Linked DNA regions of Homo sapiens: region 2 is linked to region 1. A link means that fine-mapping ties the variant in region 1 to the expression of a gene that starts in the linked region. Tissue or cell type: liver. Region 1 holds a variant in brackets; the other region holds the start of a gene. All regions are shown on one strand. Distances are from middle to middle.

What was found. PIP is the estimated chance that this variant, and not a neighbour inherited with it, causes the effect.
Region 2: it holds the start of SYNE1, and the variant in region 1 is fine-mapped to the expression of SYNE1 in liver (GTEx, PIP 0.92).

Annotation. Positions count from the first base shown.
Region 1 is chr6:152,442,175-152,444,865 of GRCh38, forward strand. SYNE1 (spectrin repeat containing nuclear envelope protein 1) reads right to left here. Exons shown (of 146, transcript NM_182961.4): 30 at 2,237-2,404; 31 at 1-71. Among named protein-coding and RNA genes, the nearest start is that of SYNE1-AS2, 41 kb to the left of the region's middle. The variant T/C (reference allele first, on the strand shown) is at 1,381.
Region 2 is chr6:152,636,322-152,639,012 of GRCh38, forward strand. SYNE1 (spectrin repeat containing nuclear envelope protein 1) reads right to left here and starts at 1,041. Exons shown (of 146, transcript NM_182961.4): 1 at 868-1,041; 2 at 317-484.

The DNA.
Region 1 (2,691 bases):
TCTCCCTGCTGCGCCTGCGCGATCTGCTGCTGCACATCTCTCTTCTTTGCTGAGATCCGCTTTGTCTTTTGCTAGAAGCATTTATTCAACAGATGGATATAAATTGTGCTCTCTAAACAGCTAAGTAGGGACATCAACACCCACGCTTAACAGAAGTACAGAAAGGTGGGCCCGAAATGTATTTTAAAGCTAAGATTAACAGTTGAAATGGTAGTCGGTTGCTATATTAGTCAAAGATGAACATTATTTATAAATATTGTATGTTTTTAATGGTAAACAACATAAATAATTTGGCTTTCGTGTTTTGTGTGCAAATTTGGAGAATATTTAGCATTTTGTGCAATACTCTAGGAAGAGTCTGGCAAAACAATTCATCTGACATGATTCTTCTTAAATAATTATTTTCTGCTTAAAAACACAAAGTCCCAACTCCAATTTTTAAAAATTATTTATTTTATTAAAATGCAAATATTAAGAGATTTATGGCCAGGGGCGGTGCAGTGGCTCACACCTGTAATCCTAGCATTTTGGGAGGCCAAAGCTAGAGGACTGTTTGGGGCCAAAAGCTTGGAACAGTCTGGGCAACATAGCAAGACCCTGTTTCTACAAAAATATTAAAAAATTAGCCAAGTGTGGTGGTACATGCCTGTGGTCCCAGCTACTCGGAAGGCTGAGGTGGGAGGGTCACTTGAACCCAGGAGTTCGAGGCTGCAGTGAACTATGATTGTGCCACTACACTCCAGCCTGTGTGGCAGAGTGAGACACTGTCTCCAAAAATAAATGAATAAATATTTATTTCCTAAGTATATTCGGAATGGTTAATTTGCTGAGATTTTGTGGGGGGAAATTGTCTTAAAGTAAACTTTTTATTGAAGTATAATCTTCAAATAGAATAGTACATAAATCTCAGATATGCAGCTTATAAATTTTCACAAAGTAAATGCACCCATATAAAAAGTACCTGGCCTAAGCATTTTAAAATATTAACATAAATATCTATAATCTTAAATTTATTGGACCTAAAGTAAATGGAAACCCAAAAAACCATTTCACAATGATTGAGAACAATGTAACACCAAATATTAATTTTTTATACTCAGCCATTTTTTAGACAGAGTCTTGCTCTGTCGCCCAGGCTGGAGTGCAGTGGGGCAATCTCGGCTCATTGCAAGCTCCGTCTCCCGGGTTCATGCCATTCTCCTGCCTCAGCCTCCTGAGTAGCTGGGACCACAGGCGCCCACCACCACGCTCGGCTAATTTTTTGTATATTTAGTAGAGACGGGGTTTCACCACGTTAGCCAGGATGGTCTCGATCTGCTGACCTCGTGATGCGCCCGCCTCGGCCTCCCAAAGTGCTGGGATTACAGGCGTGAGCCACCG[T/C]GCCCGGCCTATACTCAGCCTTTTTATAATTATTAAGTAAATCTAGAAATCCTGAAGGCTGGGATTTTAAACATACTTTTAATGCAACTTCCGTTTTTATATATTACAGAATATATATGTATATAATACACACACAAACATATTATATAAATTAGCTACCATTTTGCTACTGTGTATCAGGTTAGCTAGAATTTTTCATTAAAATATTTTATTTGAATCAAATTTCCATTTATATTGCGTTTAACAAGGTATATATTCCTTTTATGCAAACATTTGTAATGTGCACTACCAGACTATCAGAAATTAAGTTGATTAAAATAGCTTCTTATCAGTATATATACCAGAATTTCTTTATTTCTAGTTCTAATCTTTATAAGAGTGTACACTCCAGGAAGGTCTAGTACTTCAAGTAAGTCATCATTTCTCAAACTAAAGTGTGTTCAGCGTTGTAAGTTGAAGAGAAAGATTTTAATATAATGACAAAAGAACAGTGATCTCAAATAGGAAGCAATTGGTCCATCTATGCCTTTCCATCTGTTTTGAAAAGGAGAATCTAGCACGTTTTGTGCAGTTTTTCATAGCTAAATCAATTTTCTCTCCACAGTATTCCTTGAACTTTTTGATGTCATCAAGTCACTCGGTCTGGAAATTTATGTTGCAGAATATCCTGAAATGTTTAATATTTAACAGAGAAAGCAAAACCCAGAAGCGCCAAATTCTTTTAGCCATTCAACTCTTCCTTCCCATGCCCCCTCACCCACTCTCTCAAGCCAGTGGTTGTATTCTTTATCTCTCTGGTTCTTTCAGTAGCAAATCAACTTTACATAATCTTGTTGGAAGAAAGAGGCATTTTTACCTGGTGATGAAGAAGTAACTGCTGTGCTTCAAACAGATTTTCAGTATCCAAGATCTTCTCAGCTTGTTCCTGGACTTCTTTAGAGCCAGAAATTAATTCTTCGAGAGAATTTTTGACTATTTCTTTGTACTGGACACAGTCCCCAAAATTGCTTAGCATCTTTTCAACCTATATTTTCATGAAAAAAAAAAACACGTAAATCATATGCTACTTGTTGAAGTTTGTATAATTTTTTTGGTAAGGTATGATTGACAAATAAACATTGTACATATTTAAGGTGTACTACGTGACTGTGAAATGATTCTCCACATCAGGCTAATTAGCCTGTCATCTCACATATTTCTCCTTTTGTTTTTTTGTGAGAACACTTAAGGTCCACTCTCGTAGCAAGTTTCAAGTATACAATAGGTAATATTAACTGCAGTCACCACCAGAACTTTTTCATCTTAGAACTT
Region 2 (2,691 bases), 190 kb after region 1:
CTGCCTTTTGCTTCTGCACCATTGGAGCCCAGGAGATGTGCCACAAGCGGAAATGACAACTCAGAGAGGGGGATATTAATAGGGACATCTACGTACGAGATGCAAAGAGGCTCCCCAACCTCCTAGTCTCCTTATCTATGAGTATCGCACACGTACACACATCACTGCCACCACCCCCTCCCATCAAGCACGCAGAGCCCCAGCGTGCAGGCACAAACTTGCTGACAATTTGTCTGCAATGTGTTCGTCTTGCACCTCTCTCTCCTCTCCCTGTCTCTGTCTCTCCCTGTCTCCCAGTCTCTGTCTTTCCTTTTACCTTCTCTCTCGGCCTCGTTCAGTTTCCCAGCAGCAAGGCGAAGCGAGCGAACGCTTCCTCCCGGCTCTCTGCGCCCAGGCTCGGCGGGACCCCGGGGATGCGCGGCTGTCCGCCCGCCCTGTCGCCGGGATCGGGCGCGGTCTGCAGGACTGCGGGAGCCCAGCCGCCCTGGTGACAGAGGACAACAATCTCAGCCCGCTGCGGCCGGCGGCCGCGGCCCGGCGCCCGCGCTCACCCTGGCTGGCTCGCCCACACTCACTCCCGCGCCGGGCTGCTCAGCCGCGCTCCCCGCCCTCCGCGACCGGTTCCTCCTCCCGGCTGCTCGCTGGGGGGTGAGGCCTCCCCCTTCGCCCTCCCCCACGCATCTACTGCTCCTGTCGGGAAGGAAGGTCGCCCAGGCCGGTTCAGCCTCTGGGCAGGGTCCCTGCACCGCCCTGGCCCGCCACACCCCCTCCCCGGCTCCGTGCCCCGCGCCCCGCGCCCGGCTCCGGGATGCGCCGGTGCCTGGAAGAGCTGGGGGCGGGGACCCGGAGGCTCGCAGGCTTCCCTACCTCCTGGAGATGCACGGCCTTGGGCGTTTCTCCGCAGCTGCAAAGCTGTGCTGTGACCCACCCGCTCAGCGAGCCTTTATACCGGGACCACCTCCCGGGGGTCGAGGTGGGAAGGAAATGTCCCTGAGAGCCGGGACGCGCTGCCTCCGCTGCCTGGAGGAGCTGCGCTGTCCTGCCAGCTAACTTTTGCCCACGGTTTCCACTGCCCGGGTGACCTTTCTGAGCGGAACCTATCCTGAAAGGCTGGGAGGTTCCCTGATGGTCCCAGGAAGGGCGTGATGCAGAGCAAAGAGCAAAACCCGCTGGCTCCTTTTTCATCAACTTCCGAAAGATCCTAAATCGTTTTGGCTGCCAAGTCAGTAGCAAATAACTTAATTTGAGGGAGACTGGTCAGGCTTTATAGATCTTTTTTAATGTTATGTATAAAGTTTAGACTTCTTGAGAAAGCGCTTGACATCTTTAATTCTTGACTGTTTATTATGATGATTCTAAAAACCACTTTTAGGTTCTTCAGGTGCACTGTATGCACCCTGTACATTGCGGAGCCATTTGTATCTTTGGCCACAAGTCCTTCTCGTGGTGTAAGAGATCTTGGTGTTGCCTGGTAGCATTCAGGAGAATTTATTTTGTTGTGGTTTTATGGTATCCAGGCAAAGTCAAACACAGTCTCTCTTCACCAACAGTGAAGTCCAAGTCCAACAGGATGATTGCAGCTAAAATAATCGAAGCCATGTTGCAATAATCTTAAAAGTAATAATCCCCCCCTTGAATCTCCAATCTGAACAAAACAGTCATTTATCCTCTAAATTTGCTGAAAGGAAGGAGCAGTTTATAAAGTAGATGAAGTTTCTCTTTGCTGCCTGCCTTTCCCTTACCTGCTGCCAACATTCCCACTGCCTAGCTTTCCATTTTCTTCAAATTCTCCTTCTTCTGGATCGTGTCAAAATAATAACATCTGAAACAAATCTGGTAAACCAATCTGATGTGTTCCTCTTCTTTGTGCTGACTTTTGTTTTTTTTTAGAGAGAGAAACCAAACAATGGATCTCTATTTGCAGAACTTGCTACCTCCAAAAGTTGGGCCTGGAGGAGGAGTGTTTGGGATCACTCTCAATGTATGCCCTGCCTCTGCCTGAGGGCAACAATCCTGGGGCACCCCCAGAGCCCCTTGTGGAGACAACCACCAGAGCATAATTATTCCAGGTCAGCCCTCTGTGCCCAGTGGCCACAAAATGGGGTCCAGATTTCCAGGCTTGCCACTCAGAAGAAACAGATCAGAATGGCTCAGCTCACCCTCTCAATCCCTACCTTCATAGAATCAATCCACCCTGCCGGCTTTTGAAGATGGGTAGAAAGTTATTGTGCCAACTTTGCCATTCTTTTTGTTTGTTTGTTTGTTTGAGATGGAGTTTCGCTCTTGTTCCCCAGGCTGGGGTGCAATGGTGCAATCTCGGCTCACTGCAACCTCCGCCTCCCAGGTTCAAGCAATTATCCTGCCTCAGCCTCCTGAGTAGCTGAGATTACAGGGATGCGTCACCACACCTGGCTAATTTTGTATTTTTAGTAGAGACAGGGTTCCTTCATGTTGGTCAGGCTGGTCTCAAACTTCCGACCTCAGGTGACCCATCCAGCTCGGCCTCCCAAAGTGCTGGGATTACAGGTGTGAGCCACTGCACCTGGCCACCAACTTGCTATTCTACACGTTAAGCAACTACTTTCTTGGGTTTACTTACTTGAGAAGTGAGCCACTTAAAACACAAGCCTGAAACATTGCTTCCACCAACTAAAACTCCTCTACTAGGCCTAATCTCTGTTCTCACAGGCT